Regions from separate parts of the Homo sapiens genome. Here region 1 is linked to region 2. The links come from fine-mapping of genetic effects on gene expression. A gene starts in region 2. The other region holds a variant in brackets. All regions are shown on one strand. Distances are between the middles of the regions. Region 1 overlaps GMDS (GDP-mannose 4,6-dehydratase). Region 2 holds the start of FOXC1 (forkhead box C1).

Evidence for each region.
Region 1: its variant is fine-mapped to the expression of FOXC1 in whole blood (GTEx, PIP above 0.99).

What each region holds. Positions count from the first base shown.
Region 1 is chr6:1,704,971-1,714,465 of GRCh38, forward strand. The region is part of intron 9 of GMDS (GDP-mannose 4,6-dehydratase); the gene reads right to left. Among named protein-coding and RNA genes, the nearest start is that of FOXC1, 100 kb to the left of the region's middle. The variant T/C (reference allele first, on the strand shown) is at 4,499.
Region 2 is chr6:1,604,645-1,614,139 of GRCh38, forward strand. FOXC1 (forkhead box C1) reads left to right here and starts at 5,271. Exons shown (of 1, transcript NM_001453.3): 1 at 5,271-9,253. The coding sequence starts at 5,802. The coding sequence ends at 7,463. FOXCUT (FOXC1 upstream transcript) reads left to right here and starts at 887. Exons shown (of 2, transcript NR_125804.1): 1 at 887-1,155; 2 at 1,372-2,714. RefSeq lists silencers at 1-25, 76-145, 5,079-5,698 and enhancers at 1,447-1,947, 1,948-2,448, 2,806-3,315, 6,029-6,128, 8,983-9,495.

The sequences.
Region 1 (9,495 bases), 100 kb after region 2:
TCATGTTGAAAATGCTGAAGAAAGCCAAGGTGGAAATTTCCCACCTCAGTAACTTTTGATGGTAGGATACTAGTTCTATAGATAATTATTAAATACCACTAAACGACAAAGCGATGACTACTGAACATTTTGACCAGTAAGTGTTGATAGCTGACCACATGTCAGGCCAGGCACTGGGGATACAAATGGAACAAAACACCTTCCCTATGCTTAAAGAGCCAAAAAGACAGTGGTAGAAATAGACACAAATAATCAGAGTACAGGTGCACAGAGCCTTTCCAAAGCCTCCGGAGAGCTTGGAGTTGAGATGTTTTGGCTCGTAGAGACACAAGGTGATGGGCACAAAACACACAGGTGGACATTTGCCCTGTGCTGCCAGGACAGGCTGAGTTAGGCTTGTCCTGGTGCTGCCTCTGTCCCCTGCCCCTTGTACTCTCGATAGGCAGGTGGTAAGTTTGTAGTTACCCTAATCCCATCTTTCTGAGCAGCCCCAGCACCATCTGGCCAGCACACCATAATCAAACGTGAATATTCCTTCAGCAAAATGTATGAACAGTTACAGTAAGTGATAAGAAGACAGACTACATAATTAGTCTTGTGTCAGGTTGGGCCAGATTTTGTAGGAGAATGGGTTTTAAGGGAAGTTTTGATTTTCCCTGAGCTCTTTGGATTTTGGAATCACGGATAATGGACTGCGCATGGTGTGGGGCTGTAAGTGTGGGTGTCCATGGCAACAGAAGAGAGAACGTCTAGCTCACTCCTGGGAAGCTGGAGGACTTTCCAGAGGAAGTTCCAGTAAACCTGAGACCTGAGGGAGGAGGAGAGGTAGCTTCAGGAGAGTTTGGGAACTGGGGAGGGCAGGAATGACCATCAAGTTGCAGTCCTGGCAGGCGGCTGGGCACCCAGCAATCTGGGGCTAGACCCACACAGCAATGAGAAGGGTGGCGGCGCAGCAGGAAGGCCCTTGCAAGAACAGGTGCATCTGGGGGGCATTAAGCCCTGAAGAAGTTTTAGGGTGAGTTGAATTCGTCATTGTGGAATAGCAATTAACCGGTTGTTGATAAGGTGCCTGGAAGTTGGAACTAATATGGGAGGAAATAGAATGATTGGTACTATAGCGGGCAGGCCTCAAATTGTTGGGGCAATGAATGAAGTGAACAGATTTTCATTCATTTCGATTCTCAAGGGTTGTTATGGTTTTGTATATTAATCAGATGTATATATTGTGTATGATCAGATGTGTGCGGTGTGCTGGCACCATCGCGGCACAGCTGATGATTCTGAGGGGAGGTGGTGGGCAGGTGCTGAGGCAGGAATACAAGAAGTAAGCCACAAAGGCAGGCACTCCAGAGGCAGCAGCACAGGCTTAGTGACTGATCAGAGGTGGGGGCAGCAAGGCAAACAGGGGAGTCAAGGGAAGTGTCCATGCTGTTCTGCCCATGTGTTCTAACCTGAGGCCTGTGAAAAATACTTGTCTCTTTCCTCATGCGTTTCTTTATTCTAACTGATGAGAACGATGCTGAAGTCTGACTAACATACTTCACCACTGTTTTCTTTTTGTTGTAAAGTCACACATGTTCGCTAATGAACATTTGGAAAACACAAACCAGCGGAGGAGAACCCCTCGCAGGCCCATCATGAACACAACACTGCTGTTAACAGTTTTGCTGGAACGAGGCTGGGAGCACGAGGCGTCCGCAGCACGTGGCTGATTCCCAGCGTTTGCTCACCTGTGTGTAGGTTTCCTTATATGGTTGTGATCATACTGTTTGCGCATTTTTATGCTTCTTTTTTCACCCATCATTTTATCCCAGACACTTCCCTGAGCTACTACTCCATAGTCTGAATGGACACGGACTTTAATGGATTTGCTGCATGGTGGCATTTGGAAGGACTGTGCTCAGTTATCCCCTATGGTTGGACACTATGCTGTCGAACAGATCTCTAAACCTGAAGGAAATTGCTTTAAAGGCCTACTCTCATGGCAGTATTTTCGGGAAGGCAAGGAAGCATTTGGCATCTCATACTGGTTCCTAACTTATAGCCTTCCGAAGTCTCTTGCTGTCAACTGAATCAGGCACGGAAACATTTATAACTGGTAGTTTGTGGATAACAGAGTAGTATTTTAGCAGTTAAGTGAATCTCAAGTTTCAGTGCCTCTCAAATGTTGCTTACCCAAAATTTCAATATTAGTGTTGGTTGTGAATAGAAGGAATTAAAATTACATCTCCATTGTGCTCACCAGAACCACGTCTCTGCTAACCATACTTTTTAATGTGACTTTAAGGAAGCAAAACCAAGTCATAAGGTTTTGAGGTCAAAATGTGAGCTGAAAATATTCTGATTTTTAAAAATATCTATCTGTTGATCCATCTATCTATGTATTGCTCAGAAATACTTCTTGGTCTCACAGAAGAGGGGAGGAAAGGCTTCAGTGACAGACTGAACAGCCACACAGTTGAGAGAAGTAATCATAGGACACTCTCTCAAAGGCCCTGCTCCAGAGCCCTCTCCTCCATGGCGTTGTCCAGGGTGAGCAACCAGATGGAGGTGGGCTCCCCACCTTCCTCCTCCCAGGCAGCCTGGCATGGCCCACCACACACAGGCCTGGGAGGAGCTCCCCACCTTCCTCCTCCCAGGCAGCCTGGCATGGCCCACCACACACAGGCCTGGGAGGAGCTCCCCACCTTCCTCCTCCCAGGCAGCCTGGCATGGCCCACCACACACAGGCCTGGGAGGAGCTCTGCCACTCACCCACTCTTCTGAAAGACACATGTGAGTAGCACCCAGATTTGGACGTTGGAAAGTGCGCTTGCACTGAAAGCAATTTTACATATGGTAACTAGACGCAGTTAAAATATTTTCATTAGTATTTCAGGCATGTTATTGGGAAAATAGGCTTGTGTTGGCAGGGCTGGGGCCCTCGTATCATTTAAAACACGCTTTCTGGGAGAAAAAGGTTTTCAAGTACCAAATCTGTTGTTGCACCAAAGACTTCACAAACTAGGCTACATCCTTACTATTCACATGCGTTATTAAACATTTTCTGGAGTAAGGTAAGGTATAAATAAATGAAATACAAATAAACAAAAAACAAATACAGCACTCATCCGATTTTAATGGCATAGAAAGGAAATATCCAGAAGTATCAAGTGGGAAAGGTGCTTGTCCACACCCTCCTGGGGCTCTGAGGGCCATAAAGAATCAGCCATTTGCTCACCATCCACAGAAAAGCGTGAAACAAAATGCGGCATCTGGGTATATCTCAAAGGTAGGGAAGGAAACAACTCGAAGGCTGTAACTTTCCCGACACTTGAGACGTCACTCCTTTGCAAGGCAGCATTCCCAGCAGGCAGCGAAGCGTGTTTGGAGAAGCTGGAGGGCAGATGAGGAGTGGAGGGAAGGCGGGTAGGGGGCTTGCACTCGAAACCACCTCTGAAGGCGTTGTCAATACAGCAACAGCAACGAGGACAAACATGCCACACGGTGGGTCCAAGTCTGAACTGCCCGGGGCTAAGTCAGTCACCGCACAATCGAGTATGGTGTAGCTCCAAAGAATGGATCGGGCGAGAGCCCCACTGCATCAGATAACTGGTGCATCAAATGGTTTAGATCTTGGGAAAAGCAGGTTTGGGTTTTCCTCAAACCATGCCTATTATAAACTGCTGGTAGAATATTCCTTTTGAATTAAAATCTCATAGTCTATTCTAAGAACTCCAAGGGCACATGAAAGAAAGGCCAGTGAGCGCCGGGGGCCTCTGGGCCTGGCTGGCGTTCCTCTGAGTACTGCCATCTGAAACAGCAAAAGGCCAACCGGGGTCACGTCTCTGTACGCTGCATCTCACAGCTTTGGGTTTTAAATGTAAAAAAGAAGCACCTTTACATGGTAAGTAAGTGTGTCCAGTCATACACTAAAAGGACAAAAAGCCATTGTCAGGTGCTGTGGTGACATGTTCAGTTGGGCCCTGACCCTTCCTACTTCCAGAAAATCCCTCAAAGCCTTCATACCTGGTGCCTGTGTCACTGGAAAAGAGGGTGCAGCTGTCTGATGTCCCCTGATTGCCGAGAACCGTGTACACTGACTCAGCTCCACAGGTAGGCATGACAGGTTATGTCCCCTGAATGCACAGCAGGTGTCTGACTGCTGGTTTATAGATTCAGACCATTAAGTAGGTGCAGATACACCCACTGCAGCACTGAGAAAAGGCAGGAGACAGTGTCTACAGAACCAGAGTGCCAGCCACCCTTGTAGTGCTGCTGCTGAGGGGCCTGGCTAGAAAGTGCTTAGAGCAGCTGTCCTTAGAGGCTAATGTGCAGAAGGGCAAAGTTTTTGGGTGACCCAGTGCACGTGATCTGGGAGGAAAGTTGCAGAGGCTTCGTGGGGGAGCACGGCCTGGAAACTGGCTGTGCCACTAGCACACAGCGTGACCTTGGGCAAGTCACTCGGCTTCCTGGTGGCCCAATTTCCTCATCTGACATGACAACAGTGAAGATCATG[T/C]TCCCTGAGCAGCTGGAGGAAGTGACAATGAGGCTCTGTGCTGGAGAAGCCACGGTGGCAAAGGCCAACATCTCAGAGGTGACGTGTTGCCTGGCCCCCAGGACCAGGAGAAGCCCTTAATGCTTGGAGCTGATTGTCACAGATGGAAGGAGAAGTGGACAAGTAACGTGGGTGGGCCTTGGCTCCTCTGTTCCCCAAGGCACAAACCCACTCCTCTGGCTGCCCTTACATGGCTATTTAGACTGCTGCTTACATGAGAGTACGTGCAAAAAGAAGAACTTATTGAGAATTAATGCTGTAACTAGGATTTAGAGATGGGACTGAGAGTTATGTTTCAAAACCAGAGCTTGAAGTTTGGGGAGAAAACAAATGTCTCTTCTCTCAACAAATACAGTCCTTTGGTTGGGCTAAACCTGCCTAACTCGACTGAGGCAGGGTATCTATGGAGGAAGAGTTTTTGCTTCATGCAGCAGCTTTTGGCTTAACTGCAGAATTATTTCTGGAAATAGTTAATAAAAATCACACATATATATAAACCGATAACATAAAACCCCAAACCATACAAGTACACTTAAAATAAATGACTTTGGGTATTTAAAAATTGTTTTTATACTGCTGAAGTCCCTGAAGTCAGAGCCCGTGCTACAGCTGTACGCTTCCCAAGAATCACTGCTTGTCAACACTGCTCCTGCAGAGGAAGACTGTTTACCTCCACTCTGCCTGTCAAGTTGACTTTGTCTCTAAATGCTCTGCTTTTTATTACTACCCTCCACCAGACCGGGGAAAACATTTGTGTATGTGTATATTCCTGAGAAGCTTAACCACATTACTGCTGAGAACACAGCAGATCTACTCATCAACTTGGTAAAGAAACCAATCACACTGATTGATCAGATGCCTAAAACAGCTAGTTGATTTTCTTTTCCACGTCTGCGGCATTCATTCAGTCCCTAAACCCTGAGCAGCCACCTGCTCTGGACCTGCCGTGGTATAACCAGGCTGTGGTCAGACCTGATGGAGCTTCCGCCTATCAGAGAACTGTGTAGGGACAATGCCCTCTGGGGCTTCACCAAAAACAACCAAAACACACGTCTGCCCTGACATGGCAGATACACTTTTGAGGTTCCCCTTGGGAATGGTCCCCCTAGACCTGGAGCTCTCCGAGGATGGGGTCAGGGAAGCTGAGACTACCTAGGCACAAAAATCTTGACGTCTACATTTCTATCATCAATTTAACTTCAATCGGTAAATGATCTGGTGATACTGCCAAGCTCAATGTCCAGGTCCTAAGCACACCCTCCCTTGCAGGGCGGGGGTGTGAATGGCTCTTATGTTCCATTGGGGAGGGCGGATGTCAAGCTCTTCCAAAGCACCCCTGTGAGTTTGTGGAGGGCTTAACGACAGACTTGTGAAGGGGTTGACTACATATCGTCAGAAATTATACCAATGACAGTTTTAATCACTGGACATGAACATTTACAAAATACGTACACCTATGAAAGGATGTGCCAAGCCAAGCAAAAACTTGGGGCTGGAGAAGAAAGGAGCCGGACCTGGCAGTTCAGCTTTGTTTTCTCCGCATGGACAGCTGGACAGGCACAATTCCCTACAACTACATACATGATGTATTCTGAGCATTTTCCCCTGGGGGGAATCAGCTTTTATCTAATTCTTCAAGAGGTGAATGAAACCAACAAGGTTAGGGACAACCCAACTGTGTGCATCATTCCCTGACTGCAGCCCAGGGCACAGCTGCCCCCACTTACCGAGGCTTGGCCAGCCTCAGAGCCGGCTGCCTCAGGATCCCTGCAGAGTCCTACGTTTCCAGGGTCCACCGCTCAAGTGGTTTGAGGATGAATCCTGGAAGACTGTATTTTCAACAGCTTTCTGGATGAGTCTGACGTACTAGGCTTAAGAACCATGGACTAGGGTAGCCACCCTTGACAAAGGATGCCTGCGGTTTTGCTTAAAGTAGTAGTATTGCCTGAGAAGAAATGGGTTGCCTCTTTAAGAACACTTGGGTAACCCACCCATCCACAACAGCTCTGATGATTACAGGCAAAATGAAACACATGGGTGGGAAATAAATGTACAAACTCATTTTGCCAGTTTGCACCAAATCTGTGTATTTGTGGCCTGTGATTTTGGAGATACTACTCTGCAATTTTTGCACACGTTATGTCTAGGTATGGTTTTCCATCCACCTTGCTTATCTCTGTGCTATCAGCCTGTCTTTGCCTCTGACACCCCGGCTGCCTGCATACCCCTTCCGTGCCCCTTAAGTGACTTGGGAAACTTGTGGAAAGCCATCTTTTCCGTCCGATTTTGTGCAGCATGGATGAAAGTCCCTGTTGATTCTAAGGAATGAGCTGGGTGGAGGGACAGTTTTTCTGGCATAGTGAAGGCCCCACCCGAGCACCAGCCAAACGGTGGCTGCTGAGAGCAGCACTGCACAGTCACCAGCCGAACATGCCCCCCAAAGCCCCATCCGGCCCCTCGCCTGAGCCTTCATTAACACCCAACACTTCTCCTCTGTTTACAAGTTTATGACTGCAGCCTACTCTCTAACCCTCTTCAATGCTTAGAAACGGACTCTAAGATCACGAGAAAACTGCAAGAGATTGGAGGTTTGGGGCTTCAGATATAGAAGGTATAGAAGATGCTGGAAAATTCAGTCAGATACAGAAGATGCTGGAAAATTAAGTCAGATTAATCCAGACTCTTGGTTTGAGGAATTCTTTTCTTTGATAGTAATCACACTATTCTGCAATACTCCGGTATCTTTGATCATAAGATCTCAACATGCTTCACAAACACTAATTTAACCTCCCACTACTTTTGTGAAGTTTATCATAATCATCCTTCACTTAGGAGATAGGGAAGCTGAGATGACGTGTAAAGTAGAAGATGTAAGTAGCTAAATGAACTTTGAAGTGCTGTGTTCTTATCTTAGCTCCTAATTATTTTGACTGAAGTGTTTTTTCTTATTTCCTTCAGATGAATAAACTGATATCGATGGTTTACATAAACAACAGAAACTGCAAAACACACATTCCTAACTTGCTCCCTATAACTAAGCCTGGGGTGCAAAATGTCACTCACATGGAGAGAAGACGCAGCAGACATAATGGCTTATCATCAACTCAGGGTTTGAAACAAATACCCACTTTACTTTGATGTCTCTGATGCTGACCACAAAGTATGAGGGTATCGGAAAGCTCAGAAGTTCAGACAGAAGTTCAATTGTCTGAAAAAGTTATAAAGATGGAGAAAGGGAAAAAGCAAAAGGGTTGAATTCTTTAAAAAAAAAACCAAGATCATGAAACAGGCAGAAAGGAAGAGGAGAATATTTCTAGCAAGCAATAGGTTATTAAGTTTGGATTTCAATAGAGGTTGTTAGCAGAACAATATAAATATTACTTAGTTGGAGGGCTGAGGAGAAAGTGGTGTGAATCAGAAAGCCTGACCAATGTCCGTGGATGACCAGGGACACGGGGCAGACACAAGGCCGTTTCTGCTGCAGATAGTGAGAAGGCCATGCCATCATATCTGCGTTTCTCCCAAAGCAACAAATCCATCAACACAAGACTATGTAGAATCCAGCCACGGATGTCAGACTGACAAGTCAGAAATGTGGTAGATCCATAGTGGCCACTCTCAAGGACAAGCAACTGACTCTGTTTTATGTTTTGCCAAATAAACCCACAGGCCAGCGGGTGGGCGCTAGCCTTTTCATAAGTATGCCAAGTCAAACCACCATTAAAACCATTCCCTTGGCCACTGCGGTCCCTGTGGGATGAAGTGTCCTCGCCTCCACTGGACTCCAGTGTGTGTTATCTTTTCACCTCCTTCCTGGGAAGAGTTGGTGGTTGCTCAGCACCACATGTGACGACTAGGCACAGGCCCTGGCTGCTCCTGGCACCCACCACCGGCCCACGCCGGGATCCAGTGCTGGCACTGTTTGCTCTGCGTCTCCGCCCCGTGGCTCCCTCCCACTGCCCACCCCCGCCAGCTGAAAGAAGAGACAATGTATTGGCACTGACGGCCATCCCCATCCTACCTTTAGGAGGAGGTGGTGATGCATGAAGATAATATTTCGTCTTGCCAATAGACAAACAGGCTTTTTGGATCAATGGGACACACACACACACACACATACACGTACGTGTGTTTGTGCTGCATTTTACAGTTGTGCCAAACTGCATGAAATTGGCTTTTCTCTCATCTCAATTTGGCGGCATGAAGCACAAACATCTCAAAGGAAAATCAGCAACTGTTTTTATCCATAGTCTCTTCTCTTTTTCTTATTCATCTGATCCACGGGCCTATCTGAGTTCTTATTTTTTCACATCCTCACTGTAAGTTAACAGTTTTGGTAAGACAGGCATACTCAATCAGGCCATTTCTCTTCATGTGGGAATTAGATACTTGTTTTAGAAAACATATCCAAAGACTATTCTAGTGCATTTGACTGAATTTTCCACCAAAATGGATGTGCAAAGAAGAAGACACTGTACACCTTATTAGGAAAATCTCTATAAGCCCAACACTTTTTCAGACTTTTTTTGAGAGGGAGTCTCACTCTGTCGCCCAGGCTGGAGTGCAGTGGCATGATCTTGGCTCACTGCAAGCTCCGCCTCCTGGATTCACGCCATTCTCCCGCCTCAGCCTCCCAAGTAGCTGGGACTACAGGCGCCCACCACCACGCCCAGCTAATTTTTTTGTATTTTTAGTACAGACGGGATTTCACTTTGTTAGTCAGGATGGTCTCGATCTCCTGACCTCGTGATCCACCTGCCTTGGCCTCCTAAAGTGCTGGGATTACAGGCGTGAGCCACTGTGCCCGGCCTCACTTTTTCAGAAATTTAAAAAATGTTGTTCTAAATGACTATCATCTTACACAATCATATATTTAAGTTCTTTGCACTTACATTAAAAAAAAAAAAGAAAAACATTGAAGATTCTAGGTGAAGAGAAAAAGGAATATCATGCCACCA
Region 2 (9,495 bases):
GCCAAGGGGCCTCCGGGCTTCCACATCGTCCCTTTTTCTGCTGACGCTCGCGGGGAAGCGGCGGGAAGCCTGTGAGGGGCGGCCTGGGAGCAGACGGACCACCAGGTCACCGGCGCGCGCTGCCAGGCGCCGACCCACTCGCGAGGACCAGCGGTTCCCGGAGGCGTCGGCCCTCAGGTCCTCGGGGGAGGCCGGCTGCACCGAGCCGGGTGTCGGCCTTGTCCCTGTCCTGAGAGGTGCAAACACCGGCCCCGGCCCAGGCCCCCGGGGCTCCTGCCCAGAAGGCTCAGAGCTGGGGGCCGACCGCGCCTTACCCGCAGGAGGCCCGGCGGTGCGTCCGCGTTGGTGCCACTCCCCGGCCGGGGTGAGGGACGTCGGAAGGAAGGTCCCAGGGCGCAGGGTTCCGCGAAGGGAGCACTCGGAAGGAAGGCTGGCTGCGGCCCCGGCGCCTGGGTCCGCTGCGGCGCCGGGCCGGAGACCTGGGAACAGCCAGCCACCTGCAAGGTTGCAGCCCACCTCACCCCGCCGGCGGCTCCGGGGCTGTCTGTGGGTCTGTCTCACGGGGCAAAGCCTTTCTTCCCACACCCACAGCCAAGGCGCGTCCGTGCAGGGGCACACGCCTTCTGCTCCAGCCCCAGGAAGGCGCTTTCGCCCTGCAGTCCTCCGACGGCCGGCTCCCGCCGCACCGCGCACCCTGGCTCCGGCAGACTCTGGGGCCTGGGGACTCGCCCACCCTGCGCGGCGCGCCCCCCACATGAGCCGAGGTTGGGAGGCTGCGGGGCCTCTGTCCTCCCAGGCCGTGGAGTGCGGCGGCCGCTCTGAGTCCGCTGGGGACCTGGATGGAGAGAAACTGGGGCTCGTTCGCGCACACATGCACCATTTGTTCTTTCCGATCATCTATCCCTTTACGAATTTTATTTTTATTCCGGATTGTTAATGCAAGACGACAGTTTGAATCTCCATTTACCTCTGCCTGAACACAAGAAGCCCTGAGTCTTTTGAAGCCGGGCACCAAAGTTAAAGATTCACTTCCCGCATTCCCCATGGCCCCCTCTTGCAGCTTAGCTCGGCTCTGAGCCCCCGAAACGCCCTTCGAGGCGGGGGCTTTCCTGCCAAGGGGCGATAGGTGGGCCATCCCGAGGCGGGAACGATCAGGTAGGTGTTGGCTGGCTTTCTCCTGGGTGAGTAGTTAGGGGAACCGCCCCTCCAGGGGACTTAGATGACATTAAATTATCCCATCACACAAACTTCCCGTGGAGGTCTGCCCCCAGGAGGGCAACTATCGGATTAATCCAACCATGTAGACAGGCAATATGGATCACTTTGTCTTTAAAACAATCGAAAACCAAACGCTCTTTTCGTTTATTGTAGAAATTTTTCTACTAAGGACGGGGCTGAATTGGAGGGACTGTGCTGACAAATCCTCTACTTGAAAATCCCCCAGCTAAGGAGTATCTGCCCAAGGTCGCGGCCACCCAGATGTTCGGTCCCCACTCCTTCCTCCGCTGAAAAGTCGCACCGATGACTAACGTTGCCTGCCGGCCTGGTGGTTTGAAAACGAATGCCGGGCATTGATGCAAGGATATCCTCCCCTACCCCTGGGATTCTGGTCTAAGCAAAGGAGGCCGAATGGAGAACTAAGACAATTATCTAAGTAATCTAAAAAGCTCAAAGACATCCCCAAGCGGACCTTGCTCCAGTGGTCTGTGATGGCAGCCTAGTGGACAGTTTTCTAGTGGCCCTCTGGGGTTAATTGCCTTAATCTTCCACTCTGTCTGCCCCAGCAAAGGGAAAGATGCTAAAGCAGCTGTGGACTTGCAGCCTCCCTCCTGTGTGTGCAGAGCCCCCAGGAATCACTGCCCCAGTGCAGCAGGAGAAGCGCCTTCCCTCATGCCCTAAGCCTGCCTTTTCTGTTGTCCCCCAGCTCCTGGGCCAGGTGGAGCCCCCCCTGAAGCTGGTTTCTACCTGCCCTCGCCTCCCCACTGCAGCCCACAGTTCGGCTTTCAGGGCTGAACCCAGAGCCCAGAGGATGGAGAAGCCAGAAAGCGGGGAGGTAAGGGAGAGGGCGTCTAGGCACACCACAGAGGTGATTGGGCTGTGACGGGGACAATCCGCACAACACGAGCTAAGCTCACACCCCTAGGGAGTGATTTTTCCGGACTGCCCCCATCCCAATCTCCACCTCCTCTGCTTTACTTGAAAAAGAAAAAGAAAAAAGAGAGCTCCTTCTGGCTCCTGGTGACCCATATTTAGGACACCATCCCATCCCCCAGCACACACATTCCTACAGTGTCACCTGGTCCCCAATCCGAGCATTTCCTGGAGTGCTCGCCACATTCCCCTTCCTGGTGCTTTTCTATGGTGGGGCCAGGGGAGGCCTTGTTTTGAACATCGCTGTGACGTCACTCCCCCTCCTCCGAGCTAAGCACCCCTCGGTGGGCCCTGGGAATTGTTGCCCGGCCTGCTGGGGAGGGGCGGAGTGTGGGCCCAGGGAGGGTTCCACCAAACATCCATTACCGCTGTCGCCTGCGGGGCCTTCAGGCTGCAAGTACGTGAGGTGTCAGAAAAGAAGCCGAAGGGTTCCCGTGGGGGCTCTTCTGCCAAATGAGTCAAGAGATGTGCGGAAGCGGATGATTGAAGTACCCCGTGGAGTAGCAGAAAGGGGCATCAAAAACTGTAACCTGAAAATAAAAGCTTTAACCTGTTCCCCAAAAGACTTCATGCCTGCGTCTTAATGTTCAAATAACACCACTAACAACAAAAATGAAATAAGAAAAGTGCTTGAAATACAATCAAGCCGCTTACTGGAGGCTTGCTTCCGAGTAAGTTTATAAAACACAAATGCAAATATCTTTTCCTGGCGAATATCCAGAGCTAAACCAGTGGAAAGTTGATCTTGATAAAACTACGTCCCTCCATTTTTTCTCGCACGCCAGACACTAATTTCACAACGGCGACTTTTATACCCAAAACGGAGAGCTGAGAACACCGCTGCAGGTCGATTTGCAATTTACATAACAAGCTGTTTACACTTCACTGGGCCGATGGAGGGAGGAGGCAGGGAAGAGCAGGAGGCGACAGGCTGGTGGGGGAGGGGGCAGCGGGGCACCATTGCCTGTTGCAAAACTCGGGGCCGAAGGCGTTTCCCGCATTCGGAAAACAAAGCATCCGTAATCGCTGCGTTCATCTCCGCGCACCGCTAGCAGTGTAAAAGGCAGCTTCAAGACCGAACTCACCACTTGCTGAGGTGTTCAGGGAGACCACTTAAATCTCCTCCAGGCTGAAGCCACAGCACTCCTTAAAGCCTCGACCAGGCGGGCTGATAAGACCTTCAGGGTGCCGGGCTGGGGGCTGAACAGGAATTAAGTGTTCAGGTCCTGGGGCTTCACCACCACCCTCGCCCCTGTCTAGTGTCCTTGGCAACCAGCAAGTGCTGAGCCTCCTGTTGGTGCTTCTCCAACCCACCAGTGACTTGGCCCGCAAACCACCTGGAAAAGGAGTCTCCAGAGACCCCGGCGCACAGCAGGCCAGGAGGCAGCTGCCCCGGGATTCAGAGCAACCTCGGGGCAACCCTCCCTCCTCCAAAGGCTAATTCTAGAAGAGGCAGGTCCTCTTTCCTTCGATGTCAATGTCCATTATGAAACAGTAATTTTTAAATATTCAGGTGACACGGAGATGCGCCTGCTACACGTCAGCGTCCTTCACATGTAACAGCCGAAGCTGCAATTTGAATTTTCCTGCCAACGTGAGGAAGCCGGGATTCGAACCGGGGAGACAAAAGGGGTCCCGAACATGTCCTTGGATTTAATAGATGGTCGGAAATCAGGGGCAGCGGAGCTGTTAAATGCGTCACGCACGCTTCTTCGCAGTCTCCTGAGCTCGCCACTTCCCCCAGCTTCTAGTGAACGACTTGGGATTCAGCCTCCGGGAGGGTCTCTCCTCAAGTCGCTAAAATGCAGAATCGCCGTGCCGGGGGAGGGAGGCCTGGCTCTTTCCCGCTCCTTCGTTTCTTTCCCTCATTTCTCTTCTTCCTGTCCCATTCCAACCACCCAGCGACGGCGAATCTCAGGCGTGTGCACAACGAGCGGGGGCCCTTCCGTGCGTGTCCCCCCAGAATCCTTGAACCGCCCTCTAGGTGCGACCCTGGACGTTCCCCCAGACACACCCGTTGTCTCTGCGAGCCGGCAGCCCCGCGCATGTGGAGATGGAGACTGGCCTGGGGAAGCGTTAAGCTCTTAGACATATTTATTTGCTTCTTGTCATCACACCTGCTAATGTCACCGAGCCCGCAGCCTGACCCCTCATCTGAGCCGAAACGGGCCTGACGGGATCAGAGGGGGCGGCGGCGCGGCGAGCCGGTGGGACCCTCGCGGGCGGGCAGGGGAGCGCGGGGCAGCAGCCGGGCTCCGGCAGCCCTCGCCGCCCGCACCCTCAGGCCGCCAAGGGCCGGCCCCCCGGGGAGGGGGGCGAGAAGCAGGGCGGCCCGCAGCGGGGCGGGCTCATCCTTCGCGGGTGAACGGCCGTCGGAAACTCCCAGCAGGGCCCCGCACCCCTTGCCTTCATTTCGGCTGGGGAGGGGTCATGGAGGGGGGCCAGATGGGCGACGAACCTTCTTCCCCACCGCGAGCAGGGCCTGGCTGTGACCGAGCCCTCAAAATCATGTCCTTTGTAGCCGAGTTCAGGACAGGAGAACCTCCAAGTGGAGAAAAGCCGGAGACGTCAGTGACCCGAGTGAGACTGGCGTTGGAGAAGGGAGGGAAGGGGCTGCGGGAGGGGAGAGGCGGCGGGGAGGAGAGGCTGGGGCAACCCCAGCGCTGGCGTCGGCGGGGCTGGCGAAGGAATGAGAGCGAGCCAGCACGAGGCGGGGCGGAGACGCCAGGGCCACTCGGGAGCCGTGGGCGAAGGAAGGGTCTGCACGGGGTCCCGGGAGGACCCAGGAAGTCTGCGCGAACGGCGGGCGTGGGTCCGGAGGGCCCGGGGTGGGAGGTCTGCCGGGCGCCGGCGGCAGGCAGGTGGACTGCGGGGGGCGAACCGACGGCGGGCCGGGCGCCGGCGCGGGCGCAGGGCCGGGGCCCGGGCCAGGGCGGCCGGCGCGCGTGTGGTCAGCCCCGCGGTCCTCCGGCCTCCGGGAGCGGGCCGGCAGGGCTCGGCCTCCGGCTCATTCGGAGGCGGTTCTCACCTCCCATTGGCTGCCGCCGCTGGCGGGGCGGGGCTCCGCTGCCCGGAAAAAAGTGTAACTGCGTAAAAAAGTCCTCGCCTGGGTGACGGATGCTCAAAAGTTCAGAAGTTTTCCCAATGCTTCCTTAAGCGGCTGGCGCGCGAGAGACCGAGAAAAGGTGACGCGGGGCCCGGGCAGGCGGCCGGCGCGCGGCCCCCCCCCCCCCCGCCCTGGTTATTTGGCCGCCTTCGCCGGCAGCTCAGGGCAGAGTCTCCTGGAAGGCGCAGGCAGTGTGGCGAGAAGGGCGCCTGCTTGTTCTTTCTTTTTGTCTGCTTTCCCCCGTTTGCGCCTGGAAGCTGCGCCGCGAGTTCCTGCAAGGCGGTCTGCCGCGGCCGGGCCCGGCCTTCTCCCCTCGCAGCGACCCCGCCTCGCGGCCGCGCGGGCCCCGAGGTAGCCCGAGGCGCCGGAGGAGCCAGCCCCAGCGAGCGCCGGGAGAGGCGGCAGCGCAGCCGGACGCACAGCGCAGCGGGCCGGCACCAGCTCGGCCGGGCCCGGACTCGGACTCGGCGGCCGGCGCGGCGCGGCCCGGCCCGAGCGAGGGTGGGGGGCGGCGGGCGGCGCGGGGCGGCGGCGAGCGGGGGCCATGCAGGCGCGCTACTCCGTGTCCAGCCCCAACTCCCTGGGAGTGGTGCCCTACCTCGGCGGCGAGCAGAGCTACTACCGCGCGGCGGCCGCGGCGGCCGGGGGCGGCTACACCGCCATGCCGGCCCCCATGAGCGTGTACTCGCACCCTGCGCACGCCGAGCAGTACCCGGGCGGCATGGCCCGCGCCTACGGGCCCTACACGCCGCAGCCGCAGCCCAAGGACATGGTGAAGCCGCCCTATAGCTACATCGCGCTCATCACCATGGCCATCCAGAACGCCCCGGACAAGAAGATCACCCTGAACGGCATCTACCAGTTCATCATGGACCGCTTCCCCTTCTACCGGGACAACAAGCAGGGCTGGCAGAACAGCATCCGCCACAACCTCTCGCTCAACGAGTGCTTCGTCAAGGTGCCGCGCGACGACAAGAAGCCGGGCAAGGGCAGCTACTGGACGCTGGACCCGGACTCCTACAACATGTTCGAGAACGGCAGCTTCCTGCGGCGGCGGCGGCGCTTCAAGAAGAAGGACGCGGTGAAGGACAAGGAGGAGAAGGACAGGCTGCACCTCAAGGAGCCGCCCCCGCCCGGCCGCCAGCCCCCGCCCGCGCCGCCGGAGCAGGCCGACGGCAACGCGCCCGGTCCGCAGCCGCCGCCCGTGCGCATCCAGGACATCAAGACCGAGAACGGTACGTGCCCCTCGCCGCCCCAGCCCCTGTCCCCGGCCGCCGCCCTGGGCAGCGGCAGCGCCGCCGCGGTGCCCAAGATCGAGAGCCCCGACAGCAGCAGCAGCAGCCTGTCCAGCGGGAGCAGCCCCCCGGGCAGCCTGCCGTCGGCGCGGCCGCTCAGCCTGGACGGTGCGGATTCCGCGCCGCCGCCGCCCGCGCCCTCCGCCCCGCCGCCGCACCATAGCCAGGGCTTCAGCGTGGACAACATCATGACGTCGCTGCGGGGGTCGCCGCAGAGCGCGGCCGCGGAGCTCAGCTCCGGCCTTCTGGCCTCGGCGGCCGCGTCCTCGCGCGCGGGGATCGCACCCCCGCTGGCGCTCGGCGCCTACTCGCCCGGCCAGAGCTCCCTCTACAGCTCCCCCTGCAGCCAGACCTCCAGCGCGGGCAGCTCGGGCGGCGGCGGCGGCGGCGCGGGGGCCGCGGGGGGCGCGGGCGGCGCCGGGACCTACCACTGCAACCTGCAAGCCATGAGCCTGTACGCGGCCGGCGAGCGCGGGGGCCACTTGCAGGGCGCGCCCGGGGGCGCGGGCGGCTCGGCCGTGGACGACCCCCTGCCCGACTACTCTCTGCCTCCGGTCACCAGCAGCAGCTCGTCGTCCCTGAGTCACGGCGGCGGCGGCGGCGGCGGCGGGGGAGGCCAGGAGGCCGGCCACCACCCTGCGGCCCACCAAGGCCGCCTCACCTCGTGGTACCTGAACCAGGCGGGCGGAGACCTGGGCCACTTGGCGAGCGCGGCGGCGGCGGCGGCGGCCGCAGGCTACCCGGGCCAGCAGCAGAACTTCCACTCGGTGCGGGAGATGTTCGAGTCACAGAGGATCGGCTTGAACAACTCTCCAGTGAACGGGAATAGTAGCTGTCAAATGGCCTTCCCTTCCAGCCAGTCTCTGTACCGCACGTCCGGAGCTTTCGTCTACGACTGTAGCAAGTTTTGACACACCCTCAAAGCCGAACTAAATCGAACCCCAAAGCAGGAAAAGCTAAAGGAACCCATCAAGGCAAAATCGAAACTAAAAAAAAAAAATCCAATTAAAAAAAACCCCTGAGAATATTCACCACACCAGCGAACAGAATATCCCTCCAAAAATTCAGCTCACCAGCACCAGCACGAAGAAAACTCTATTTTCTTAACCGATTAATTCAGAGCCACCTCCACTTTGCCTTGTCTAAATAAACAAACCCGTAAACTGTTTTATACAGAGACAGCAAAATCTTGGTTTATTAAAGGACAGTGTTACTCCAGATAACACGTAAGTTTCTTCTTGCTTTTCAGAGACCTGCTTTCCCCTCCTCCCGTCTCCCCTCTCTTGCCTTCTTCCTTGCCTCTCACCTGTAAGATATTATTTTATCCTATGTTGAAGGGAGGGGGAAAGTCCCCGTTTATGAAAGTCGCTTTCTTTTTATTCATGGACTTGTTTTAAAATGTAAATTGCAACATAGTAATTTATTTTTAATTTGTAGTTGGATGTCGTGGACCAAACGCCAGAAAGTGTTCCCAAAACCTGACGTTAAATTGCCTGAAACTTTAAATTGTGCTTTTTTTCTCATTATAAAAAGGGAAACTGTATTAATCTTATTCTATCCTCTTTTCTTTCTTTTTGTTGAACATATTCATTGTTTGTTTATTAATAAATTACCATTCAGTTTGAATGAGACCTATATGTCTGGATACTTTAATAGAGCTTTAATTATTACGAAAAAAGATTTCAGAGATAAAACACTAGAAGTTACCTATTCTCCACCTAAATCTCTGAAAAATGGAGAAACCCTCTGACTAGTCCATGTCAAATTTTACTAAAAGTCTTTTTGTTTAGATTTATTTTCCTGCAGCATCTTCTGCAAAATGTACTATATAGTCAGCTTGCTTTGAGGCTAGTAAAAAGATATTTTTCTAAACAGATTGGAGTTGGCATATAAACAAATACGTTTTCTCACTAATGACAGTCCATGATTCGGAAATTTTAAGCCCATGAATCAGCCGCGGTCTTACCACGGTGATGCCTGTGTGCCGAGAGATGGGACTGTGCGGCCAGATATGCACAGATAAATATTTGGCTTGTGTATTCCATATAAAATTGCAGTGCATATTATACATCCCTGTGAGCCAGATGCTGAATAGATATTTTCCTATTATTTCAGTCCTTTATAAAAGGAAAAATAAACCAGTTTTTAAATGTATGTATATAATTCTCCCCCATTTACAATCCTTCATGTATTACATAGAAGGATTGCTTTTTTAAAAATATACTGCGGGTTGGAAAGGGATATTTAATCTTTGAGAAACTATTTTAGAAAATATGTTTGTAGAACAATTATTTTTGAAAAAGATTTAAAGCAATAACAAGAAGGAAGGCGAGAGGAGCAGAACATTTTGGTCTAGGGTGGTTTCTTTTTAAACCATTTTTTCTTGTTAATTTACAGTTAAACCTAGGGGACAATCCGGATTGGCCCTCCCCCTTTTGTAAATAACCCAGGAAATGTAATAAATTCATTATCTTAGGGTGATCTGCCCTGCCAATCAGACTTTGGGGAGATGGCGATTTGATTACAGACGTTCGGGGGGGTGGGGGGCTTGCAGTTTGTTTTGGAGATAATACAGTTTCCTGCTATCTGCCGCTCCTATCTAGAGGCAACACTTAAGCAGTAATTGCTGTTGCTTGTTGTCAAAATTTGATCATTGTTAAAGGATTGCTGCAAATAAATACACTTTAATTTCAGTCAAAAACTGCTCTACGTGGCCTGTGATTCGCTCGGTCCCCTCCCCCAGGGTCGTAACCTAATCGCCGGGAAGATCGCAGCGGCGCTGGCGCGGGTGTCTCCTCGGGGCAGGCGGGCTGGGGGTGGCCTCACGGCCCCGTTTAAATCTCGCTGGGCTGTCGCGGCGCTAGGTCCCGGGGCTGCCTCCAGCTTCCTCGGGTTACAGCCTCTTTCGGGGCGGGGGAAGGGGAGGGGGTGACGGTAGAGACT